Linked DNA regions of Homo sapiens. The protein of the gene in region 4 interacts with the protein of the main gene of each other region in a biochemical or structural test. Each region holds a gene or a part of one and is shown on either strand. Other genes may lie near its edges.

Region 1 (7,659 bases), 6.5 Mb from region 4:
CTCCCTCCACAAATAATCCGCTTTCATAAGACACGCAATTCTAAATATTTTTCACCAAAATTGGGAAGGTAGTGACATTGGCCATCCTGTATTCCCAGAACTTCCAACAATCCCTGGCACATAGTAAAAACTCATTAAATATTTTTGAATGAGTCTTACAACAGATTCTGGTGAATCATGTGAATGGCTATAGAGCTGGGCACATGCAGCCAATCTCATCAGGCTTCACCACTGATGATTTAGGGCTTATCCTTAGCCAGTTTCTCCAGCTGTAAAATGTTAGGGGTAATAATAGTACTACTTCCTAGGCTCATTGAGACTACTAGAAATAGGTAAAGCCCCAAGCAAAAGGCCTGGCACACAGTTTCCAACTGAAGAGCAACAACTATGTACACCACACATGTCATACGAAACTTAAGGCCCATTAGAAAGCATGCTATAAATGCATAGCATTACATGATTTACAGAGTCATGAGAAAAAAAATGGGAATGAGTGGGGGAAAAAACAGAATAGGGATAAATGAATTATCTGGGGTCTCTTATTTCCAGCAGGATAATAATTTAGAGTGCCTTGTGTCCAGCTGCTGAGAATGACTCCAGCCTCACACCTGCAGGAACGAAACGGGGAAGGTATGATTCACTATTCCTAGCAGGTTCATCCTGTTAGGCACAGGAGCTGTAATACTTGGGGGGCGGGGGCCCTCAAAGGGCAATGCAGAGGAATATATGGGAATTGAAGGGCAGTAAGCATAAGCCACAGCTCCTTGCTTCAGTCAGGGGCAGACCGGTCAGATGCACCCATACTCTATGACTTCCCTGTGAGCAGGAGAGGCAGAGGAATTTCAAAGAGGCAGACAGGGGCCAGGGGAATAGTTAAAAAGAGTGCTGAGTCTACACTCAGAACATTGGAGGAGAATTCTGGACCCAAAGGATCCTTCATGATGCAGATGCCTCCTTGTACTCTGGAGGACACTGCGTTTCCCAGAATTTAAGCAACCTGCCCTAAGCAACCTGGCCAAGGGCACGCAGCCAAGAAATGGCAGAGAAACCGAGAACCCAGGGGACAGAGCAAGGCTTTGTCGTTACACCACACTGCCCCCCCAGGAGACAGACCTTAAAATTCCCTTTGCCAAAAATCTATTGGGGAGAAGAAAACCATTGATTCTTTTAATTTTTTAAAAGGGAGATATTCGATGTGGTCTTTCTAGTCTCCTACTAGGTTCTAGTTCACATAGCTTAACTGATATTAAAAAGGTCAAGGCACAAAAACATAAAGACCAGATGTGTTGTTTTAAGCTAGGTGATCAAATCCTCCAGAGAATCCGAACACTCCCTCGTGACCCCTGCTGACCCCTCCTGCTGCACAGGGGTCCAGATGCAAGGCCTCTCTGCCCCCCACAGGAAAGCCCTCACAATAGTTACAAGTCCAGGACGCTGCAGACTGCGCCTGGAGACTTTATAGAGAAACTGACCGGTAGTCGACAGTCTCAAAACCGTTCATTGCGCCGCTTCCTTTCAAGCGCTTGATTCCAGCTAAGACTCACTTTCTATCCTTACATCATCAGGGTAACCTTAAAGGTTTGTTTTAAAAAATGACCTGGGAGATAGCAGGGCTTCAGGGGTGAGCTGGGCGACCTGCACTCGCCCGCACCAGCGACACCTGGAAAAAAGGGAACGGGAGGCAGGAATCTGACCAAGGGGCTCCAGCAACCTGCAAATCCTTCACCTAAGACCCAGTTCCCGCGCGGATATACCTGGATTTCTGTTATAGCTTTAAGAACTGAGTAGGATTTGCAGAAAGTTCCACGCCATCTCCCACCCCACCCCCAGGCAGCCCTGAAGTATAGAAGTCCCGGGGGCGGGGAGGCGGGCGGTCACGAATCTCAAAAATTTCCGAAGAAAACAGGACCTGCGAATACAGGTCGCAGACACCGGGAACTAGGGGCTTTCAGAACCCGCCAGGCAGGCCGGGCACTCTGGCCGGCGTGCTAGGCGGTTGGAGTCAGGGAACGCAGAGTCCCAGCACGCTGTCCCTTGCCTTCCCGGAGCAGGCGGCAAACACAGCCTCCAGCCGCCCCGGGGCGCGCGGCAGGAATGAAACGGCGCCGCGGCAGAAAGGGGCGAGCACGGGATGTACGAAAGCAAAAAGTCTGCAACCTAGCGGCTGCTTTCCACACGCCCTGCCCAAGTTGTCCCTGTCGCCACCACCTCCAGGCTCGCGGGAGTCCGGCCCCACAACAGCCCCACGCCGCGCACTCCCAGCGCAAAAGCCTAACCCGGAGGCGGGGAAACGCCGCAGCCTTCGATTGGTCTCCACGGGTGGCGCCGCGAGCAGAGGCGGCAGCGGGTCGGTCCCCAGCTCTGGGCACAAAGAGCGCCTGCGGTTGGAAGGCAGTAGCCGCAGAGCAGAGAAAGGGCTCTCTAACTTTGCCCTCAGCGCGGCGGAGAACCTGCAGGCAGGTCCTCCCGGGCGCCGGTCACACACACGCAACTTTTAACAAAAGGAAGCTGCGGCCGCGCCTCGCACGGCAAGAGAAGGCGCTCGGTGCAAACCCCTGAGCCCCCCGCCTCCGCCCCCCGCGCAACGTCGGCACAAAAGCCACCCCAAACTCGCACGGAGCCTGCAGCCTCGCTCACGCCTAACCCCCTCTTGCTGTCCCCATTCCCGAAGAACCCCGGATTCGCGTCCCCCACCACCAGCAGCTGGGGTCTCCTCGCGCAGGTGAGCGAGGCAGGGCGCCGGAGAGTCCGAGGGCCACCTGGAGTCTCCCCGGAGGCTGGAACGCACGGGCACTGAGGGCCCGCAGTCCTCTCTCCGGATGCACCCTGGCGGGTACCACCCTCCCAGGCACAGGCTTCGCCGAGTAGTCGCACGGTCGGGGTGCCAGCCGCGGTGTCCCACCTGTCTGGACGCGAAGCAGTAGGAGCAGAACGCAGAGAAAATCCCAGGCGCCGCGAGCGCCTCTCATCGCGGTAGCTGCGATGGGATCCGAGCTCTGGTCCACGTTCCAGCTCTCGCCCAAGTGCAGCGAGCGCGGCAAAGCCGAGCCCCCAGAGCCGCGAGCGGCGAGCAGCAGCCCCTCCTCCCAGCGCCCTCCCTCTGCGCGCCGGCCACGCCCCTCCTCGCCTCCCCTCCCTCGCGCCCGCCCGGGTCTCGCTTCTTCCCGGCGGCGTCTGGCCCCTGCTCTTTCGACGTGTTAATGCCGGGGGGCCGTGCCCGCCGGGAGGAGGAGGGCGCGCGCGCCCTCTCTCCCCGCTCTTGACTCCGGAGCCCCTTTCTCTCTCCACCTTTCCACCCCTGGGATGTGGACGGCCAGGCTGAGGCCGTTCCCGGACCAAGGAGGTGCTGCCCGCTCGCTTTGTGAAGCTGGGCACCACGCACACGTTAGGGCACGGGCCCGCCACCTGCCAGGTGCTCCCCAGACAATAAAGGTCGACTGCCCGCCCCTCGAGCACGTTCGGGCGGGAGGAGGCTGGACGCCGCTGCTCGTGGAGGTGGCATGGGGATGGGGAGGGGAGCGTTAGGAAATTGAGCCCCGACATTCCCCTCCAGGCCTGTTAGGAGCTCCTGGCACCGCGGTAAAGGCTGAGCCCGGTTTCGCTAATTGTTTCTGCTCAATTTCTCCACCTGCTTCGTAACCTGTAGGAACACAGTGGGTTCCTATTGGTCGGCGTGGCCTCCGCCCAAGAAGCCCCTGCCGGGACTTGTGTGGAGACAGGGGCGATGGAGGGCGCGTGGCGAAGTTTGCTCTGGGAGCCCAGGTTTTCATACACGTTTTCCCCCCTCCCCCCAACGCTGCCAACCCCAGTAATGATTTCTCTGCCTCTGTAACAGACGACAGTTTTAGGGCTAGGGCTCTTAACTGCCCTTGCCGGTCCCAGGAGCAAAATAAAAGTACAATGATTCTCTTAAGCCCGATTTCACTGCCCAGAAAGTGCCTTACCCACAGTCTCATGGTGGATCCTTGAACGGAAAGCAACAACAGTATCTGTATAGGGGTTAATAGTTCTTCCCCACAGCGACTCGTCTTTTCATGCTCACGATAACAGCTTTGTGAGGAGGGTAGAGCAGGTATGTTTATTATTGTAGTGAGGGAAGACCCAGGGCTTGAACACTTATTGGAAGACCTACTCCAAGAAAGATGAGCTTTCCCTATGCATTCTGATAAACTAATAAGACATCCCTCCTGAGAGCTTAAGAATGGAAAAATAAATGGCAGATGCCCATCAGAAAAAGGGATAGAACAGATACACCTAGACTCTTCTCTGAAGTATCATCCAAAATTTACAGTTGCCCAGCTGCCCCACTTCATTTAATATTGAAAGCTCTCCTGTTGTTTAATAGTGTGAGGACCCAGGTTGATGTAAGAAAAATGATTTTTAAAGCTAATCACTTAAAAATTATCAGTGCTAGAGGGTGATCAAATGATCAATGTGTATAATTGCCTCTCTTTAAATGTAAGTATTTACTCACTCAGCAAGCATTTGTTTAGTGTCTGCTGTGAAGCAAGGAGGAGCTAGGTACCAGGAGTACTATTATTAATAGACAGATATGCAGATGTGGCCCCTGCCCTCACAGTCCTTATAATCAAGTATGGGGACCTACATCCCAATCTCCCAGCAAAAGGTTCGAGTCATGCGGCTGTAGGAGAACTGAAATACCAAAGGTCTCTGTGCTCTGGGCCATCAGATCTCATGTTTTTCTTAGGATGACAGATAAAAGATACCACTCAAAGCAATCATAAGTTTCTGGGATCTTGATTTATTTCTAAAATTCATTTTGTATTGAGAAAAAATCACTATGAGTTAAAATATCAACATTATGCCTGAGAGAGAAAATTTACAATTTTCTTCTTCAATCAGCTGATATTGGAGAGGATAACATCTTCAAAAGAGTGGGTGAAAAGAGACCATATTGCAATTTAATTCTAGGCACGGAACTTCTATCAGGAAAAAAAAAAACTGAATAGGGAGTTATACCATGTTGGACCGTCATTCCTGTTTTTCATTCAGCAAATATCTTTTGAGCACCTAGGTAGGCATAAGACCCACATAAATGAGTAAGACAAAGTCTCTGTCTAGGGGAATTCACAGTCCAGCAGGGAAAATAGGTACTCAAGTAAGAAACTATAATATCTGCTAACAGAGCTTATGTTCAGCCAGTACACACCAATTTGGCCTTATTGGTTGACACAATATTGAAATCCTTCTGTACTGATTACAAAAAAAACCATACCCTAAAATATCTCCCAGCCCAACCTTGAGACACGCTAAATCTCCTTAGATCCAGGAATTAAAATTTTAATGCTGGCCACAACAGAGAGCCTCCAGTACTTGTACCTTTAGGGTTGTTAGCTGTTTTTAATAATACCCACTGCCTGTTACATAAAGAAAGGAAGCATATATATAAGGCACTATGAGTGGACATATATGCTGTAATATATAAGGAACTATATTATAGATCAGCAGTGTCCAATGGAACATTGGCAATGATGGAAATGTTTTATATCTCAGGTAGGATGTATGGATTAATTCTATACTGTATTTTGTGATAGTCCTGGGCATGTTCAGGGATTGTGCTTTATGTATTTCATTGTTTTCATAATTCTTTTAGCAAGGACTCTCGATTGCAACTTATAGAAGCAGCTTAAATTAAGCAAGCAAACAAAGAAGCCTAAATGTATTGGCTCTTATAACCAGAAAGTCCAGGGACAATAGTGTTTCAGACTTTCCTAGATCCAAGGACTCAAAGTTATCAGGACTTGAAGGGCGAGTGTGTGTGGATGCATGTGTGCACAAGTGCACGTACACTTTCCTCCACCTTTATCCTCAATACTTTCCTGTGTTGTTTTGCCAACCTTGTATACACTCAGGGCAGCTCTAGGCTTACAGCTCACTAGTACCAACGGAAGTAGAGTTTTCCTGCCCCCATAAACATCTCCTGTAAAAGTTTATGGGAGAAACCGAGTCTCACTGACCTGGCTTAAGTCATGTGCCCATTGGGAAGGAGCCAGAGGGATGGAGTATGCTGATTGGCCATGTCTGAGTCATGTGCCCACCCCTGAAGCCGGGGTCAGGGATCCACTTCACACCAGAGGCCTGAGATGGGGAAGGGTGCATCCCCAAAGAAAAACTGATGCACCATCAACAGAAGAAAGAGTAATAATGCCACACAAATACAACTAACACAGCTAAAATCTCGAACTTGAAAATATTTTATTATATTTCTGACTGTAAAAGATGCTTATTGTAGAAAATTTGGAAAATACCAAAAATTATAAAAAACAAAAAAGGCACTCAAGATACAATCACTGAAGAGTTTGTTTTAATATGTTCCTTTCTTTTTTCTCTATTTATGTGTGAGGTTTTTTTCCCTTTACATAATTTAAGATCTTGGTATATTTTCAGTTTTCTATCCAGCTTTTTCACAAATAACATGAGCATTATTACAGATCACTAAAAATCCTTTGGAAACACACTGTTTAATGGCAGTATAATGTTCAATTTTATGGATGTACCATAATTCTGGGTGTTTAATCATTTCTCTCTTTTTTTTCCAATTTTTTTACTATCATAAATTACTTGATGATTAATGTCTTGGTGAATAAAACTTGCCTGCTTCTGATTAGTTATTAAGTATGCATTCCTAACCAGGGGTGGAATTACTACAACAAGAGTATAATCCTTTTCAAGTTTGCTTTTTAATAGCTTTTCTTGGTTTTCAGCAATCATCTGAAAGTCTTTTGTCCATAAAGTTGAAGAAATGAATAGATTAATACAATCCCCCGGTTAGATTCTATACTAACAATAACCACTTCACAGTTTGTGAGTCTGAAAGGAGATAATGTATGGTCTTCGTTCCAGCTTTCATTCAGTATTAATTGAACATCTCTGTGTCAGATGTAGTGTATTAGGTGTCAGGGATACCAAGTTAGACAAGACACAGATGCTGCCCTCACAGGATTTCCAGCAAATGAGGGGAGAGATGAATAAAGGGGCAAAAATTACATGGCATGAAGTACTCTAACAGAGCCATGCACAGTGATGTTTGCACACAGAGGAGCACCTGTCCAGTGAGCTCATGTGGCCTCCCAGAGAGGTGGGTATTAGACTCTGAAGGATCAGGAGCGGGGAAAGGGAAAGGAGAGAAGAATGTTCCAGCAGTGGGAAGTACAAACGCACGGGGCTAGAGGCAGGAAACAGCATAAGGAATAGGAAGAACAAGGAGTGCTGCCCAGTCAAGGAAATGGGGCTTGGAGGAGAGTGGGGAGAGTCGAGGCCACAGAGATAGACAAGAACTGTAAATACTCCGAAATGAGAACCTCATCCTCTGAGCTACGGGGAGTCACTAAAGGACTTTAAGCTGCAGCCTGTTGTGCTAAGATTTACATTTTTGGAAAGATAGTGAAGAAACTCAGTGAAGGGTGACTTGAAAGGGGGCAAAAGTTAAGGCAGGAAGAAAATGGTAAGGAGCCTAATGCAGTGATCCACAGGAGAAACAGGGAACTGAATTAAGTCCACAGAGGTGAGAATAGTGAGAGGGGATGAATAAGGAAGTTAAGATTCAATAGGCCTGTGTGACCAAAAGTATTGTGGAGCTACATGTGCTCCCATCCAGCAAGACATGGAGGTACTTGTTAGTGGACAGTGAAGGATTTG
Region 2 (5,304 bases), on a different chromosome or scaffold from region 4:
GGATCCCACAGATCAGTGGCCTCTGGAGAATGAAGTGGCTCTAATAGAGTGGCTTAGTAGTGGCAGACACTATTTTTTGATGTTCTATGTGTCTGATACTTTCAGCTCTTTTTTTGTTCAAGGAAGGTCAAGTGACCTAACCAGTGCTTACATAGGCAGTACGTGGAAGAACAAAGATTCAAATCTAAGTTTTTTAGTCCAAAATATGTGCCCTTTCCACTGTGCCATGGTTCTGCCTTCAGGAAAATATAATTTCTCATCAAATCTATGGAAAGTTGGCTAAGCTTAACATTGGTCATAATATTGGTAATGGAAACTCTGGGAGGTGAAGAGGAAAGAGAATATATAGAGAGAAGGAAGGCCTAGCAAAGGCAGAAAGATTTGATTCATAGTTCTTCTCACTCCAGTAAATTATTCTTAAAAGTGGTCTGATATCATAATGAATGAAGAAATCAAGGAGGAAAGAAATAATAAGCAAAAAATTCAAATATTAGTAAATTCTAAAAATTATTTGTATCCTAACATATACTTTTTATTACATGTTTTCATTTCACAAAAATGCACATCTACATAAATATTTATTATATTATAGGAAAACATCATTAGTAGCTGACAATCAATGATTTTTAAGCACTATTAGAGTTGATTGTCAGGAAGCATTCAAAATCTTGACCAAATGCAACCCATATTTTCCTAATATGTACTTCACAATATCTACATTCTCTCTTTAGTCATACACACACACACACACACACACACACACACACCCCTACAATTGCACTGGAAATACACATGCTGTGTTAGGAATGAAATGAGTCCCCAAAACATCTCTCTTGCTTATCTGTTAGTTTCACCGATGGCTCAGGATATGCATTTAGAAGTGAAGATGCTGCCAGTGGGGCATTGGCCTCTTTCAGCCTCTTTAGCTTATTATGCAAGCCTCTAGTCTTCCTTTTCCATCCCTTAAATCCTCAGGTCACAACCATGTATCTGAAAGACAGTCCCCCTTGAGGTAGCAAGGCCCACCTTGAGAGGTGAGTTAAAAGGTGTCCTTTTCAATCTGCCTAAATACTCTCAGGCACTAAGATGAGTGTAGAACACCTGGTAGCTGCTTTTTCATGCTTCTCCCTCTTCACATGGCAGCCCAGAGTTCTATGTTCTTCCGTCATATTCCTCCATTTGTCTGGCTCATAAACATTAGGTGAGTTGAGGAGCTACAGACATTTTGAACCCTGTGGTCTCAAGGTCCACTTGGTTCATGTCTTCTTACTTGACCTCAAATGCATGTAAGAAGACCCTCACTGAATACAACATTCTCGGTGCCTGTAACAAAGAATCATAATGGAAAGAATCCCAAAGTGCTTCTCTTAGAGCTTATATAAGCCGAAAAACGTCTGAGATTCCTCAAAATTGACCAGAGAGAGCTCAGATACGTTGACATATAAATGATCAGCACTGGTAAGATTGAACACTGCCCCCAGGTAGCTGCTGCGGGCCCACATCTGCCCAGTAGTGCAGTAGCTCATCATCTTCCCCTCCATCATCACCAGATCCTGGGGATACTTAGAGTTCCTCATGTAGACCTTGTGGCTCAGGGGCAGGTTGTTGCAAGATTGACCCCGGAAGTATACTTTGGAATATACAAAGTACAGCCCAGTTTCATTGATCACAAGGCCACCCTTCTTATACTTCACTCCAGAAAGCAGGACAATTCCATAGGTGTCTTCCCATTCCAGAGGCATGGACCTTGAGTTGGACTTGCCTGAAATAAATCCAAAAGGAGCTTTCAACAAGGAATAGTCATGCATCCAACAAACTAAGTTTCTAAGGCAAAACTGTGGGCCCTTCCTTCAACAAATGTTTCACCCAGAATGACAGCTGGTATAGAACTGGCTGAGGGGTCAGAACTTGATCCATCACAGAATTTCCTCAACAACGTTGTCCTATTTTGTCATCCACACAATTGGAACAATAGTATATACCCGTAATCCATTGCAGTAAGAAATTATTGAGAAAATATTTGCTCTCTGGAACAAAGATTTTACTATCTTCAGAACTAGCACCAAATCTGCTAGGCTTTGAAGTCCTTTCCTGAAGGAAAAAGCCAAATCCAAGGAACTCTAAAGTTCTAAAGTTGGGAAGGATCTTAGGGACCATCTGGTCCATCTTCTCACCTGCAGTAAGAATTATTCAGCCCCTCAATTTGGGGTACAGTTCCCTTTTCTTTGTATCCCCACAACATCATGAACATAACCTAAATCTCTGAAGTACTGAAATTATCATAAGTGCCTGTCTTTCCCTATTAGATGTCAAGCTCCCTGGGGGCAAGAGCCATGTGCTACTCATCTTCACATCCCCAAATTGGCACACAGCAGGTATTCAGTAAGTGTCTGCTGATGTGACCGGATCATTCTATAATTTCTGCCTAAATAATTCCAGGGACAATAGCCTACCACTTTCTGTGATATTTATTCCATTATTTATGTAGTTTATAATGGGAGTGCCCATACCATATCATTTCACTCCACTTTACAGGCACATATTGAAACTCTACAAGTGCCAGGATTGAGTCTCCCTTCTCACTCCTATTTATACTCTTGGACAAAGCAGAGTGAAGCTCTTCCAGAAAACCAAGAAAGCACTGACTAAAATAAGTCCTCATTCCTCACCTTCTCATCTCTCACCTCTTGGATCTGTGCCCCCAATCCCCCAAGGGACTTTGGAATGACTGAAAAGAATGAGCTTCTTATGGGCAGGGGTCATGTCATAATCAGCTCCAGGTCTCCAATTTAGAAGAGGGCCTTGCCCAGAGAATAGGGGATCAAAGTGTGTTCATAAGACTGACTCGACAAGAAAAGTGTTAGTATTATTGGGTTCAAATACTGTCTCCAGGAAGTAACAACTCTCTAGAGCCTGGTAATGGAAACCAGGCAGCCATTTTGCCTTTTGCCAAAAGCTTTCCCAAATCTCACCTGTACCTTCCAGATACAGACCTGTTAAATGGGCCACTTTCCTCAGCTCCTTTTTTTCAGGGGGTGGACTGGGGTGGCCTGTATCATAGAGAGAGGAAAAATATATGTTAAAATGAAATAGCAACTATTATTTTGGTGGGAATTTAAATCCAATCATTTTAAAAAAAAGATTTTAAAACCGTAAATGGCAACAGTCTAACATATACTAATCATGTAGGTCTGAACTGCAGGATTCATAGTAGTCTATATTTCAGAAACAAAGAGGTAAAAAAATAAACCAAATTAAGATTGACATATGTATAAATTATAATGTTACAATAAAACATAATTAATATAAACATTTATTCATAAAGAGCTGTCATGTCAGTTATTGCATTTAGAACTCACCACAACCCTTTGAGGTAGGTATTATTGTCCCACCTTATCGATTGCAAAATGAGCTTAGAAGTTGGGTGACTAATCCAAGAAGACCCAGCTAGTCAGCATCACAGATGGGACCACACCCTGCTCTCCTGACGCCAATTCCAGGGCTCTGTCCACTCTGATTCTCTTGTTCCAAAGACTTACAGGACAGAGGCTGAAGAAGACTACTGATCTGTCTGCGTGTCACCAGATCTTCCCCCAGTGACATTTTACAATCTGCCCCAAATTAATTATCTTAAGACCTCTGACAATCACCTCATATCACTGAGTCCTCAAACACCTTTAATTGCTCCTCCCCGAAGATGCCGTCGTATACAAGTATCCCCATCACACAATCCCAGCCCATCTGTCCAGCCTTATCTCCTTACTCCCACTGAGCATTGCCACACAACGGGAGTTCTGTGGCCTACACATACCCCCACTTTCCTTCCTCTGTGCCTTTGTTCATGCCATGTCTTCTGCCCGTAATGTTCTTTCAAGCAGATTTCTGTGTCAAATTCCTAAACATCCCATAAGGACTACCTATTACCGCTTTCTTTGGGAAACCCTCTCAAGCCTTTTTTGATCAAATATGATCTGCCCCTCTTTTGAAATCTAGGATCCCTCTGTCTTCCCCTCTCTTGTCATTTCTGACTCCTCTTGTCTCTGGGGTAACTACATAAATTATCTTATTCCCCTCAAATAACGACAAGTTCCTTACGATACGTTGAGTTCACCAGAGAAGCCCAGTTTCTAACACAGGGCATGTTACTAGCAAATGTTGGACAAATTAAATGGAAGGATAGACAATAGTTCTCAAAACAGACACTATTTCTCTGACTTCAACTGTTTCAGACAAGATAGACAGCTGCCACTTAGCTAATGAATTCAGCTAACTGAGACTTCAATAAATATTCACAGGAGATGCTTGTCTATGTCAGGTTCGTGATTAGCCTGTAAAACTCACATATGGTATGAGAATGGCCCAATCCACAGAGAACATTAGCTGAGCAATCATGACCTCTCTAGTCATCCAAGACAACCCACCATGTAGGAGGTGTTAGCGAACAGGAAAGGCAAAACTGAGTCTCCTCTGCATTCCTACACCGCAAACCACCCGAGCAACTAATCTGGCACTCAGCCACGCACCGGCAGGAAACGGAACAGAGAACCACATGTTGCATGTCTTTATATCCCTCACAGAGCCTAGTACAACGTTATTCTTACAGAACATGCTCACTAAGAATATCTGCTGTACCTATACTGGAATAAATAAATTGCAAGGATATCCTAGACACTGGTTATGAGTGCTTCCTGCCCCAGGGTTTTTGCATGTGCCGTTCCCAGCGCTGAAATGCCCGCCCCCAGCCCCACCCCACTCCACAGCACATGCACACAGCCGTTCACTCATCGGGCTTCTGACCCCCAAGGTGTTAGCGTAAACAACACCTCCTTAAAGAAGATTCTCAGGTTGTACTTAGTACAACTTTGGAATTGCATGGTCTGTTTGCTTGCTTTTGTTTAGCTTCTTCCCCCTGCTAAAAGCTCCATAAGGACAGGCCCCCTGGGCTGGCTCATCCTCAATCAGCATCCAACACCCAACATCTAGCCTCACACATGTGAATGAATAAAAGATTTAATTAGTTAACCGGAAAAAAATGGAAAATGTAAAAAGGAGCAAATTAGAAAGTATAAATAATCTATAATAGTATCTCCCAGAGAAAATCACTGTTAGTATGTCAGTGTGTAAAACTTTCCAGTTCCTAAGAATATAAAAATGTGCATACATGGTTACATAGTCAGTATGAAACTAAACATACCCTTTTGTAACTTGTCTTTTTATCTAACAATACAGAGTGCACAATCCCCAAAGCATTAAATGTCCTTCTGATACATCACTTTTAGTTGCTGCTTATTATGTGCTTGTCTG
Region 3 (7,030 bases), on a different chromosome or scaffold from region 4:
CACCCAGACAATGATAGAGTTATTGGGACAATGTTATTCCAACCATCAGAAATTATTAAGACTGTTAATTCAGGAGAAGGTATAAAAAATATTGTAGGTTTTAAATAACCAATTCTCTGCTCTCATCACTAGCTTAATGTCTGTCATGTTTCTTTAGGCAACAGGTTCCACTTAGGTCTCTCATCCTCTGTCCTTCTGCTCTACAATCACTTCCTGAGAGATGCCAGGAAGTCTCATGGCTCTGATGCTCACATCTCTATCTCTTCCTAACCTCTCTCTAAAGTTTCACTCCTAAAACTCTAACTTCCTGCTAGTTACTCACTTTTTAGTGTTTTGTCATTCATTATCTTAATCTTGACATGCTTTAAAACTGAGCCTATAATTCTACCAAATCAAAAGAAAGAAAAAAGAAAGTACAATGGAAGGAGGTGGGGGAAGCAGTGGTAGTCCTTTTCTGACTCTTATTTCTGACTAGATTAATGAAATTATCTCTAAATATTCCCTTTCCTTTGACCTCACATTCAAAGAAGTCAATTATTTTAAGCATTTGATGACTTCTCAGTTTCTTCTTATTCCTTCTGATAACATTCTAGTCCAAACTCTTTTAGTCTCAGGCCAGACTATTATAATAGCTTATTTAGTAAGTACACCATTCCATACCTCTTTCCATTCAAATCCTTCCACCGCTTTCAGCCAGATTAATCTTTTTTCATACCTTTAGTCATACGCTGGTTTAAAAATTTCAAGTGGTTCTCCCCAGCCAAAGAAATTGTTCTCAGCCTTTTTCCCACCTCAATACAACTGAGAGATATGCTATCCTCCCATTTTAACAGTGATTCTGAACCAGGCAGGGGGGTGGGGAGCTAACAGAGTGGCATGTGTGTGTGTGCCTGTGGCATGGGCCACTGTAGAGAATACTATAATCTCCACAATAGAACTAGAAGAATAAGTGGAGTTTGATAAATCCACATACTTTAGGGATGGCACATGAGTGTCATACTTAGTAAGTATCTGTAATAAGTTATGAATAAAACTTACAATTTCTTAGTGCATCCAATGCCCACCGTTCTTCTGAGACAGGCAGGTGTGAATCTGGGATTGCGATTTGATAATCTTCTCCAACTTCCTTTAGTGTCCCATCTGTATGTTGTTCCTTTGCAAACTGTCTCTCAGCCACAAACAGATCACGTACCTCTGATTTCCCAGAGGTACTCAGTGAATGAGACTGAGGTTTTGACGATATTAAGGTAGATTCTAATCCCAAATCTCTGTCTGTCCAATGGAATAGAAAAGGTAGACTATATCTAAACAAAGCTTTTAACTTTTAACATGAAGCATTCAGGGAAGAATCAGAAAAAAAAAAAACAATCCATAAACTACAGAGATCATCTGTTAAGAAAAATACACATCACTTAGAACAGTGTTATACTGACACACAGAAGGCTCAAAGGCAAAGTTTGTTAAACTGAATCTCTGATGCTGGAACCTGCATAAACCAAACAGTATTAAAGTTTCTTTGCATTTTATTTTATTTTCTTTTTTTTCTTTTTTTCTTTTTTTTTTTTGGTGTTTCGGTCTTGTTGCCCAGGCTGGAGTGCAATGGCACGATCTCGGCTCACCGTAACCTCCGCCTCCTGGGTTCAAGCAATTCTCCCTGCCTCAGCCTCCCAAGTAGCTGGGATTACAGGCACCTACCACCATGCCCGGCTAATTTTTGTATTTTTTAGTAGAGACAGGGTTTTGTCATGTTGGTCAGGTTGGCCTCTAACTCCTGGCCTCAGGTGATACGCCTATCTCGACCTCCCAAAGCACTGGGATTACAGGCATGAGCCACCACATCCGGCCAGCATTTTAACAGATAATAGAGCACATTCTCCATTGAACTCTTCAGAAGAGTGTACCTGGACTCTGCAAACCAGTGACTGAAATGCCATGCTGCTCCTCTTTTAATTTTGAAGGATCTTCTTCATCATTATCTCCTCTGTAGAGAAAAAAAAAAAAAAAAAAACTTTTACCTTCCTGAGGTATCTAAACATCATCGCAACAAAACATAATAATTATCCTAGTCTTTTCCAACCCAAAACATAAAATAAGTCCTACTACAATGCAAAGGAACACTCACTCGCCAGGTGTTGACTGTGGTAATGGAATTGGCTTTGTGGATTGCTCCTTCACTGATGCAGCCATCCGACAGATTAGGTCCTGCCAGCTTCAGAAAGTTGGAAAGAAATCCAAAATACAAAAAAGAAAAAAGAAATATCCTTTAAATATACTCAGAAAGCAAAACTAAACAAAAACCAAATCAACCAACAACAACAACAACAACAACAACAACAACAACAACAAAACCCACTCTGCCAGAGAATATCTTTATTTTGGCAACACACTATTAAGGCGAGAGTCCAAAACTATACCTTAAGAGAAATCTATGGACACATTAAAAAAACTTCACTTGACATTTTGCACAATTTTTTCTTTAGGAAATAAACTTTCAGAATAGAATCAAAATAAAAGGCATCAACCTAAAAAAGAACAAGTTCATAGTAGAACGTCTCTAAAAGAGTACAGAGGAAGTGCTTGGTTTCCATACATTATAAAAACAAAGTTAAGTTTATGGAATATTACGCTTGGGATAATGAAAATATTAGCTATAGCAAGGTAGCCATATCTGATACATACACAGTCTTTTCAGAAACTGTCTGTGCCACCAGTTCATAAATCTGAGCGCCATTGTCTGACATGGAAATGACGAATAAAGCTTTGTTATCTGGAAAAAACAATACAAGATTACTCTAATACTATGACCTGGGGAGGCCATGAGGGATGTTTTTAGGGTCTTGAAATAGTCTGCCCCTTAAACTAGATAAAGGTTACATATATTTACTTTAAAATTCATCAAGATGTACACTTAAAATTTGTGCAACTTACCATATTAACGTATTTATTGTACTATATTTATTGTACTTCAATAAAACAAAGATTATACGAATTAGCACTAATTCCACAATAATTTACTAGAAACTTTGCTAAAAGCATGTCAAAAATCCAAATTACTGGCCGGGCACGGTGGCTCACACCTGTAATCCCAGTACTTTAGGAGGCCGAGGCAGGTGGACCGCTTGGAGCTCAGGAGTTCGAGACCAGCCTGGGCAGCATGGCGAAACCCTGCCTCTACATAAAACAAAAAAATTAGCCAGGTCATGGTGGTGCATGCCTGTAGTCCCAGCTACTCAGGAGGCTGAGGTTGAAGAATTGCTTGAGCCTGGGATGTGGAGGTTGCAGTGTGCCAAGGTTGTACCACTGCACTCCAGCCTGGGTGACAGGGTGGGACCCTCGTCTCAAAAGAAAAAAAATAAATAAATCCAAATTACCAGATTAAATGCTATTACTCTTTTGCATTTATTTTGAACTGCACTTTTGCTAAGTTGTTAGTTAATAATATTCAGTGAGTAGTGGAGAAAAGAGGTCACAAATTTATTTTGCCACCATGAAACTAACAAGTTTTAAAAGGGACCCCGTTGTTAATAGAGTTAAAATATAACTTGCCAGTCAAATTTGATTTTTAATCAACACTACATCCGTCTCTTTGGTTTTTGATTTTTTTCTCACCAAATCAAAAAACATACCACCCTAAATGAAAGGCTTTTCATTGGGATCTATCAATGATTTGAACATAAAGAACCAAAGTAATAGCATAAAAATTTTCAAATGCAGAAAACTGTTCACAGAATCGAGACACCCTAATAACTTTGGGGTATAAACTCTTAGGTCTCTTTCTAAGCAGTAAATTTCATGTAATTTGCTTAAGAATATAAAAATAGCAAGACTCTATGCCACTTGTGTTATTGAGACAGCACCGAGTATCTTATGCAACTTCACAATGAATCTGGAAATTAGTATCCTTCAGTGGACATACTTGCCTGTTGCCACTTGTCGAACCAACACTGTACTCAACTTAATGACAGGGCTAAACGTGTGTTTGCTATCAGCTGTAGATGCCAGAATCTTACTATGACACCTTAAAACCAGTCTATCATCCTGCTTTTGTAACAATACAAGAATGTCTTCCAGCAGCAACGTGTATAAATCTAGAAATAAAAGTGCAGAAAAAAATGGTAAGTACAGAAATGGAGACGCGTTTGATTAACTTTATAATGATTCAACAGAGGAATTCTATTTCTGTTAAAGCTACAAAATTTTAAAAATTGACTTGTATATTATCTTTTAAAATTTCATTTTCAGTAATTCATTTTTATTTTATTTCACTGAAGTGTCAGTCTGTGACCAATAGGAAATAAAAAACAACAAGCTGGGTGTGGTGCTGTGCGCCTATAGTCCCGGCTACTAGGGAGGCTAAGGCAGGAGGATCCCTTAAGCCCAGGAGTTCGAGGCAGCAGTGCACCATGACTGCATCTGTGACTAGCCACTGTGCTCCAGCCTGGGCAACATAGAAAGACCTTGTTTCTGAAAAAACAAAAACGGTTCCTCATCACAGACAGTTTAAGATGTACTGGTCTAAAGAAAGCTTACAAAGCATACAAAGACTCACTAGACTATAAGAATGATGGAAATAGGACTAAATCAGTTCTCCACTACATTCCTAAATGAATATTTAACACATCTTACATATAATGAAATAACACAAGCAGATCTACAAATGTACAAATAACACGAGGTAGCACTGCAAACTGCTGAGAGAATGGTTCTCTCCTCTTCCCTTTGTCATAGGAAACTTTCCTATTCCTTCCCTTTTGCCACTCTCCCCAAAACTAAAAGACAATATCAGACCTACCAATAGTTTTATCTCTATTCACCTTCCAAACCAATGGCCCTTCATGAATCATCTTCCTTTTTGTTAAATCCAAATTCTGGCAAAATAAAGAAAATCATGCACAAATAATTTCCAAGCACTCAGTAACATGATTATCTATATAATACAGTCTCTTTTAAAGAAATTCTTAATATAAAATACACCATTTACATTCAACTATCATTATTGCTATTTGTCAGTTCTTGAAAATGGCACAAAAGCCATATTAAAGTAATCTGCATACAATTTTCTAAAAAGGAAAAGGTATCTTGCAGAAGAACATTCAGGAGTACTATCTTCAAACCTCACTCTAAACAGATGATAACAGATTATGAAGATCAAGTTACAAACATTCAGTCACTAGATTCTCAACGTATCCTTTAATTTTCCTATGAATAACTGGATGAGCATGGTACATATGCTTGTCTATAAGAAAGTGGCTTCTGAGTTCCAAGGCTCTAATTTCAAAGAAAGTTCTAAGAAATAGTACTCATGAAAAGTCCAGGTACTACTCAGACTTGGTCTAAATATTAACAACTTATTAGTAAGAGAATCATCTTTTAGTATTAGCAGCTCTAGAAAACTCTCATTCTTTGGAAGCTAAGGGGAATAAGCACATTTACGTGCTTGTTGACGAAGTATTAATATATGACATAAAAGTCTATTTTAACAGCCACCAAATAAATCTGCCAAAACCACCACCTAGTGAAATGGTACAAAAACACTTAAAATCCGAAAAAGTTAACACATAAGCCCACATACTAGAAGTGGCAATTAGTAAACATTTTACTATCGTTCCTGTAATGGTTCCAACTTTTATGCTTCTGAAGAGCCTCATGAGAAAATAGTATGCTATCTTGTGTTATTAAATGATCTGGAAAGTTACCAAACAGTCCTACCCTTATTTAAACTACAGAACACAGGCTGGGCATAGTGGCTCATGCCTGTAATCCCTGCACTGTGGGAGGCTGAGAAAGGAGCACTTGAGCCCAGGAAATCTGGACCAACCTGACAACACAGCGAGACCTTGTCTTTACAAAACACAGAATTAGCTGGGTATGGTGGCATATACCTATAGTCCTAGCTGCTAGGGAGGCTGAGGTGGGTGGACTGCCTGAGTCCAGGAGGCCAAGGCTTCAGTGAGCCAAGACTGCACCACTGCATTCCAGCCTGGGCAACAGAGCAAGACCCTGTCTGAAACAAACTACAGAACACAATAAAATTAAATTTTATAATAATTAGTGTCCCTTAGTCTCCTGCCAATTGCTGTCATGTAATATTACAGTTTTATGCAAGATATTCCTCTAATGAAAAACTAATTTCATACAGATCAAGCATTTAAAAGGCAGCAAAAAAAATCATAAATACAGATAATCTACGATACAAGAACTCCTTCAGGTGACGTATATTCCCACTGAGATGTTAATTACCTGCCAGGTCTTTAGCAAATTTTATTTTATTTTTTAAATTATGATTAGACCATCTCTCACCCTGAGCTCTTCAACATTTGGGTACTCTGACAACTTCAGGCTGGAGGTATCAAGGCGACGCTGATAATCTTCTAGGCGCTGAAAATTAGGCAGGGTGGAACCAAGGTTAGTGCTTTGGTCATTAATGACCTCTCTATTTCTGAATCAAACTTGGCATTTAAAATCTCCATTTTGGCCAGGCGTGGTGGCTCACACCTGTAATCTCAGCACTTTGGGAGGCTGAGGCAGGTGGATCACGAGGTTAGGAGATCAAGACCATCCTGGCTAACACAGTGAAACCCCGTCTCTACTAAAAATAAAAAAAAATTAGCCGGGCATGGTGGCGGGCGCCTGTGGTCCCAGCTACTTGGGAGGCTGAGGCAGGGGAATGGTGCAAACCTGGGAGGCGGAGCTTGCAGTGAGCCGAGATCACGCCACTGCACTCCAGCCTGGGCGACACAGCAAGACTCCATCTCAAAAAAAAAAAATCTCCATTTTACTGAGCTCTTTGCAATGCTAGACAGGACTGAAAACTCACTCTCTTCCCGTGGCTTTGGTGATAATATACTCTCCTAGTTTTCCTCCTGCCTCTTTGGCTTTTCTTTCTCAATCTTCTTTTCAAAGTCATTGGTCTCTTATTAGCTTATATTTATTTTCTGAATATGTAAATCATGCACACAGTACAAAATTCAGATGGCTATATAAGGCAAAAAATAAAAAGTCTCCCTCTAACCTTGTCCTATTGCCCCAC
Region 4 (7,030 bases):
CACATAGTAATTGCACAATAACTTCTACCTATTATTGAGTTACAACCCAGAGCCTAACACAATATTTGTGGAATGCTTAGGTTCTCAGGCCAGCATACAAGTCTACATTTAACTCTTAAATAAAATAACAGTTTCAAATTGAGTATAATAATGCTAAATGGTGAGACAGGATCAACCCCTCTATCTCCAAATATAGGGGGATTATCTTACCATCCACCTGTTGTATTAGAAAGTCATGCTTCATCTACTTATGGAAGCCAAGACATAGCCTAGATATGTACAAACTATAGATATAACGATGTTAAGGAAAAAAATTGCTGACAATATCACTAGGGATTCTAGACAATGTAAATTGCCATTAATGTTTATTGCTGTGATGGACTTCCTGAACACATTGTTAGAAATTGGTTTGTGGCCAGGTATACAAATAATTCATTGTATGGATTTTATTATTCATCAGTTGATGGACATTTGGGTTGTTTCCACATTTGTTCTCTTATGAATAATGCTTCTGTAAACAGTTGTGTACTAGTTTTTGCATGGAAATATGTTTTCATTTCTTTTGGGTATTTACCTAGTTATGGGTATGCTGCGTCATATGGTAACTCTGTGTTTAACATTTCAGGAACTGATTTCATATCAATTTATATCTCATTCTGTTGTTTTCTTTTTTGGTGTTTTTGCTCCCTAATTTTTTCTTCCGTGTTCCTGTATAAGTTTTATTTTTCACCGTCATCTCAATTCATTCAACAAACATATATCAAGTGCCTACTGCATGCCAGAAACAGAGCCAGGCTTTGGGGAGACTTCAATATTTCAGTGGTGGACTAGGTGTAGTCACTGATCCTGATTTTCCCAGACCCTACCACTTGTGGGGAGACAGAGAAGTACATAACGATTTTAAATTGCTTTGAGATATCTTGTAGTAGAGGAAATACAGAGTGCTATGGGTGTTTATGGAAGAGACATCTCCTGTTTCTTATTTAGTGCTGTATGCGACTTGGGTTAAAAGATCCACACTGATTTCCAGTAGTTGGTATTCCCAGTTGTTGCTATCCTAGAGCCCGATTTGTATGCTAAGATTGCTAATACTGAGTCATGTCAGGTGAATAACTTCCATTTTTAGCAGACTAATCTAATTCCCTTTCATAGTTCAGCTCTCATATTGGAAAAGAACACGAAATAACTGTTAGAAACCTTTTAACATCCTTTAAAATATTTGAAAAAAGAGAAAGCTGGCATGGTGCCTGTTAAACACTGTAGTATTTAAAAGAAAATGTTTGTTGAATGAATAAAAGCATATAGCAGAGTGCTGTATGTACACACAGAGGATGAGCAGTAAATGAATAAATGATGAATTTTCTAAGTGAGTTTCCTGTAGCATGTGACCAAGCAGAATGATTATGAATGAGTTTGACTGCAACGCTTTCTTTGATTATTAGGACTTGTCACCAGGCTTCGGTACCCAGTTAGTGTGAAAGGGAAGAATGCACCCACCACTGCAGGATTCAGCTATGGTAACTCTTATTTTGTGGTTGCATGAGCTAATTTTCCTTGAAAAGAATCCATTGTCATAAGATAAATTTGGATGTGTACTATTTCACATACTGGAACTGTTTTTTATAAGTTTATAGTATAGGTTTTTAGATAATTATACTTAAGACCATAGCAGCCTAGGTATTCAATTTTCATCATTATTCATAATTCCATAGAAAACTTTCTGTCAGTGAAAAATAAGCATTATCATGTTAACATCTAAAATAAATCAAAGCCCTTCCTGGTTCTCACTAGCTTTATTGGCTACAAGAACGTGAGTAAGGATGGAGGTAAGAAAGCAAGCTTCCAACTTAATTGTCTTTGTTGCTTCTGGCAAAAGCCTTTAAAACAGCAAATTAGATTATTTCCAACTTGATGGAATTGAAAAAGAACAACAACAAAAAAAAAACCTGAGAAGGAAGAGTGGTAAAGAAGGAAGTATTTGTTTGACAAAAGTACCTTTAACTTTCAGGCTATATTATTATTAGCTTGTTATGCAGAATTGTCTTGCCTTCTTCATTTCACGTTGGTTAGAAGGGATTCATCCTTCCCACCTTTGGCAGTTCAGATGCAGGTTTCAAGTCTGTTCTGTGTTTTACCAGGAATTATTACAGTGTTATCCTGTAATTTTGAGGTTGATCTTGGTTGTAGGTTCTTTTTCCCCCTCTCTGATTCATGCTACATTTTCCTTTTTAAATATGAACACTTTCACTTTCTGTCCTGCAGAGAAATGGGAGATTAACCCTTCAGAACTGACCTTTATGAGGGAATTGGGAAGTGGACTGTTTGGAGTGGTGAGGCTTGGCAAATGGCGAGCCCAGTACAAAGTCGCAATCAAAGCTATTCGGGAAGGTGCAATGTGCGAGGAGGACTTTATAGAAGAAGCTAAAGTGATGATGTAAGTTGCTATCATCTTTCTGGCTCATCTTTTTGTATTAAGAAGTGGCCCCTTACCAAAAACTTGGTAGTTTCTTTTCCTATAGTAACTATATATATGTCTTCCTTCCCAGGAAACTGACACACCCGAAGTTAGTGCAGCTTTATGGTGTGTGCACCCAGCAGAAACCAATATACATTGTTACTGAGTTCATGGAAAGGGGCTGCCTTCTGAATTTCCTCCGACAGAGACAAGGTCATTTCAGTAGAGACGTACTGCTGAGCATGTGTCAGGATGTGTGTGAAGGGATGGAGTATCTGGAGAGAAACAGCTTCATCCACAGAGATCTGGTAACCCTAGCCACCCATATTCCCACTCATTGGCTGAATTCCTTTGTAACACTGGCTCAGCAAATGTGCAATGATGTATTAATAGCCAATTTTTGTTCTTAACAATCTTTCACCATTATTTTTAAAGTTGGTAAATTTAACTTGCCCTGTAATTTTAAACGAAAGATCTTTATTCAATCTAATGATTTACTTAGTTAATATCTCCAAGCAAGTTTCCATGTTTTAATTTTTCGATCTCCATAAGAATCCCATGAGATAGCTACTCACAGTGGATTCTCTTACCATCATTCTTGTACAGATGAGAAAATTAGCTTCAGGGAAGTCAAAAGGCTCGCCTACTGTGATAAATAGGGAAATTGGGGTTGGCCTTGACTTTCTAACTAGAGCCCAAGTTCTTTTCCACCTCACACACTATAAAAAGAAACTATAAGAGAAATCCTTTGGATTTTTAAAAAATCTCTCAAATCACTGGGAAAACATGGAGGTTCATGTTAACTTCTCAAAATGCTAGAAAAAGAAATCCGTTACCAGTTCTAAATTATGATGGAGACAATTTTTCCCTTCTCACCTGTTCTCACTCTCTCCTCCATTCTTCTTTTCCTTCTGTTTTTCTTCTCTACCTGTTCTTTACAGATGCTTTCAGCTATCAGTAGCACTCTGTCCCCTGAAAATAATCAGCTGAAAATGTCTGTTTTCAGCATATCGGTAGCACTGTCTGTCCCCTGAAAATAATTCTTTTACCAAGAAGAGTGTAATTTTCATTTGGGACTTTCTCCCATATTTTAGTTTTAGCTTTCTAGTGATAAAGCATGGACACATTTCTTTTAGAAAGCAGAAAAACTTTAAAAAAATTTTTTTTTCCTTTGAGACAGGTCTCACTTTGTCTTCCAGGCTGGAGTGCAGTGGCGCAATCTTGGCTCACTGCAGCCTCAACCTCCCGGGTTCAAGCGATCCTCCTGCCTCAGCCCCCAAGTAGCTGAGACTATAGGCACGTGCCACCATGCCTGGCTAATTTTTGTAGAGATGGGGTTTCACCGTGTTGCTCAGACTGGTCTCGAACTCTTGAGCTTAAGCAATCTGCCTGCCTCAGCCTCCCAAGTGCTAGGATTACAGGTGTGAGCCACTGCACCTGGCCTTAGCAAAACATTTTTTAAAGTTAACAGTCACCTTAGACAGACATTGTTCTGATAAGTATTTTACAAATAAACTTGTTTAATCATAATTCTGGGAAGTAGATTTTCTTATTATTCCCTTTTTACAGATGAGGAAACTGAGGTGCAAATAGGATAAAATAACTTCCAATGGGCAAGTAAATTGTAGAGCCAGGATTTGAACCCAGGAAGTTTGGCTCTAAAGTCCCTACTTAACTACTATGCTATGCTCTCTAGAATTAAAACATATTAGAGAATTGAAGATTTGGAGATGGAACACTTTATTTCCTAGGTGTGTTTTGGGATACTTACCTTATCTTATATTCAGTTTCTGTGTCTGTAAATTGTGGGTTATAATGTTGTTTGGCTTCCAGGACTGTTTTAAAGGTCACATTATTTGACTGGGGCAATGGGCTTTGTAAAATAGACATGCTGTAGATAACATCAGTTATTGTTATCATTGTGTCAGGGATGATGAAGAACATCTCGTCAGTTAAAACTTGTGAACTAAGAACTAAGAACAAAATAGATGTCCTTATAAAACTGATAAAAACTGAGTATCTACGTGGGTGTGGCAGATTACACCTGTCCACACAGATGATGTTTTGGCAAAAACGATTCTTACATTTCTGTGCCTGTGATATTGGTATTACTATGGTAGGTTTGTGTCACCCCTTATGGGAAACTTTGGATGCTCTTGTCTCCTTGGTAAAGAATCCTGTTGACCATCCAGTGCAGGCATTGTGGAGTTGTGAAGTGTTTTCATAGGAAGATGCAGGCAGTCCAGGGAATGGATATTAACTCTCACTTTATAAGACTCTTAAAATGCACTCAGCAAGAAGGAACCTCATATGAGTGGAATTGCCACATAGAGAAAATAGAATTATGAACAGTCAGGAAGAAAAACATATCTTGGTCTATGGGTTATGGTATTAAAAATATTATCGGCCAGGTGTGGTGGCTCACGCCTGTAATGCCAGCACTTTTGGAGGCCGAGGCGGGCGGATCACGAAGTCAAGAGATCGAGACCATCCTGGCAAACATGGTGAAACCCTGTCTCTACTAAAAATACAAAAAAAATTAGCCAGGCGTGGTGGCAGACGCCTGTAGTCCCAGCTACTCGGGAGGCTGAGGCAGAAGAATCACTTGAACCCAGGAGGTGGAGGTTGCAGTGAGCCAAGGTCGCACCACTGGACTCCAGCCTGGTGACAGAGCGAGACTCAGTTTCAAAAATAAAAAATTAAAAAATTAAAAAAAAATTCTTGTCTTCCTTTTGAGAAATACCACGTCTTTCTATCAAACTATTTTCTTAAACCTTGTAACCTTGAAGAACATGCAAGAAAATATAAATTAAATAATCCACAATTGTATTTGACCAATTTTGTACATCATGTTATAATATACTGGGAACATAAATGAAAAAGCAAACTGTATTTACACATAGCTGTTCTTTTTGAGACGGAGTCTTGCTCTGTCACCCAGGCTGGAGTGCAGTGGCGCGATCTCTGCTCACTGCAACCTCCACCTCATGGGTTCAAGCAATTCTCCTGCCTCCAGTCCTAGGTAGCTGGTACTACAGTTGTGTGCCACCACACTTGGCTAATTTTTTTTGTATTTTTAGTAGAGAAGGGGTTTTGTCATGTTGGCCAGGCTGGTCCCGAACTCCTGACCTCAAGTTATCCACCCGCCTTAGCCTCCCAAAATGTTGGGATTGCAGGCGTGAGCCACTGCACCCAGCCTGTTCTTTGACTGGGATGAGATGACCAATCACTGAGCAGAAATATTGGATAAGAGATTGGTCGCCCATCATTTTGATGGTTGTGTGTTATTAAGCTCACCTAGTGAGAACCGGATTAAGGACTTCAAGAGATGTTCTCATTGTCAGTAAGAAAATTGGATAGTTTAATAAGAACAGGTCTGGGAAGGAGAAAAGTGAGTTGACCCTTCTATTAGCCCTTGTTTAAGAATGACAGTTGGCCGGTGAGGTTGCTCGTGACTATAATCCTAACAATGGGGGAGGCCGAGGCAGATGGATGAGGTCAGGAGTTCAAGACCAGCCTGGCCAACAAATACAATAATTAGCTGGCTGTGGTGGTGGGTGCCTGTAATCCCAGCTACTCTGGAGGCTGGGGCAGAAGAATCACTTGAAACTGGAAGGTGGAGGTTGCAGTGAGCCAAGATTGTGCCACTGCACTTCCAGCCTGGGCGACAGAGGCAGACTCTGTCTCAAAAAAAAAAAAAAGAAAGAAAAGAAAAAAAAAAGACAATTGGTAAAGATTATGTAATAATGCCTTATTGCAAATACAACTTTCTGACCTGCCTATTCATTTTTTTCAAATACACAATGGAAATACTTCCATAGGGGTAAAAACAACTTATTAAAGGGTGTTTCCACTCTCTGCAAATGTTGACTAGGTTACACTAAATTTAATATAAATAGAACTTACATTTTCCTACTTAAATGATAGAATTTTTAAACTAATATACCATCATAATGTTGTTTTCCAGGCTGCCAGAAATTGTCTAGTAAGTGAGGCGGGAGTTGTAAAAGTATCTGATTTTGGAATGGCCAGGTATGTCCAAGTATACGTGGTTTTAGGTGATGTTTGCATTTTTTTGGTGGAATTAATAAGTGTGGGAATAATTTGCACTGATGAAGCAGAAAGGAAATCTTGTTAACTGGTTCTCAGATTAAATTAAGTATATATTGTGATGGTAGTAATTCTCTCCACTAGGTGGTAGTATAGCCTGTTAAATACACTGTATTTCCTGGTGTGGATTAGATTTCTAGAATCTTTTGTTTTCACAAAAACATATTTGGTGGTGAGGTTCTTAGTATGTCCATGTCTGCAGTGTTTTTCTTCTCTTAATTTTTATAATTTAATAGTATTATAAAATACCTTTTAAAGGTATTTAGTTTATTTTTTCTCTCTTCTCCCTCCGTCTATCCATTCATTCATCCATACATCCACCCATAAAAAATCAGGTGCCTGCTCTGTGCCAGGCATAATGATAAGCTGAACCATATAGAGAATAAGACCTACAAGTCCTTGCCCGCATGCAGCTTACATTGAGGAAGAGGGTGAATCAGAAGACCTGATAAAGTTACATGATCG

What was found.
Region 1: the proteins of TEC (region 4) and KIT form a complex in vitro, tested with the Homo sapiens proteins (2 studies listed by BioGRID and IntAct, with this or other methods).
Region 2: the proteins of TEC (region 4) and FASLG interact in a test that uses a peptide from one of them, tested with the Homo sapiens proteins (one study listed by BioGRID and IntAct).
Region 3: of the proteins of TEC (region 4) and ARHGEF12, one has a biochemical effect on the other in vitro, tested with the Homo sapiens proteins (one study listed by BioGRID).

The regions. Positions count from the first base shown.
Region 1 is NC_000004.12:54,653,325-54,660,983, reverse strand, and holds the start of KIT (mast/stem cell growth factor receptor Kit isoform 1 precursor), read right to left. Parts: upstream 3,028-7,659; 5' UTR 2,970-3,027; coding exon 2,903-2,969; intron 1-2,902. UniProt on the Homo sapiens protein: Tyrosine-protein kinase that acts as a cell-surface receptor for the cytokine KITLG/SCF and plays an essential role in the regulation of cell survival and proliferation, hematopoiesis, stem cell maintenance, gametogenesis, mast cell development, migration and function, and in melanogenesis.
Region 2 is NC_000001.11:172,662,080-172,667,383, reverse strand, and holds the end of FASLG (tumor necrosis factor ligand superfamily member 6), read right to left. Parts: intron 3,051-5,304; coding exon 2,994-3,050; intron 1,763-2,993; coding exon 1,368-1,762; 3' UTR 508-1,367; downstream 1-507. UniProt on the Homo sapiens protein: Cytokine that binds to TNFRSF6/FAS, a receptor that transduces the apoptotic signal into cells. Involved in cytotoxic T-cell-mediated apoptosis, natural killer cell-mediated apoptosis and in T-cell development.
Region 3 is NC_000011.10:120,472,398-120,479,427, reverse strand, and holds part of ARHGEF12 (rho guanine nucleotide exchange factor 12), read right to left. Parts: intron 6,379-7,030; coding exon 6,301-6,378; intron 4,869-6,300; coding exon 4,793-4,868; intron 4,089-4,792; coding exon 3,921-4,088; intron 2,768-3,920; coding exon 2,680-2,767; intron 2,210-2,679; coding exon 2,123-2,209; intron 1,982-2,122; coding exon 1,902-1,981; intron 1,273-1,901; coding exon 1,039-1,272; intron 1-1,038. UniProt on the Homo sapiens protein: May play a role in the regulation of RhoA GTPase by guanine nucleotide-binding alpha-12 (GNA12) and alpha-13 (GNA13). Acts as guanine nucleotide exchange factor (GEF) for RhoA GTPase and may act as GTPase-activating protein (GAP) for GNA12 and GNA13.
Region 4 is NC_000004.12:48,140,812-48,147,841, reverse strand, and holds part of TEC (tyrosine-protein kinase Tec), read left to right. Parts: intron 1-1,442; coding exon 1,443-1,517; intron 1,518-2,262; coding exon 2,263-2,434; intron 2,435-2,546; coding exon 2,547-2,763; intron 2,764-6,422; coding exon 6,423-6,487; intron 6,488-7,030.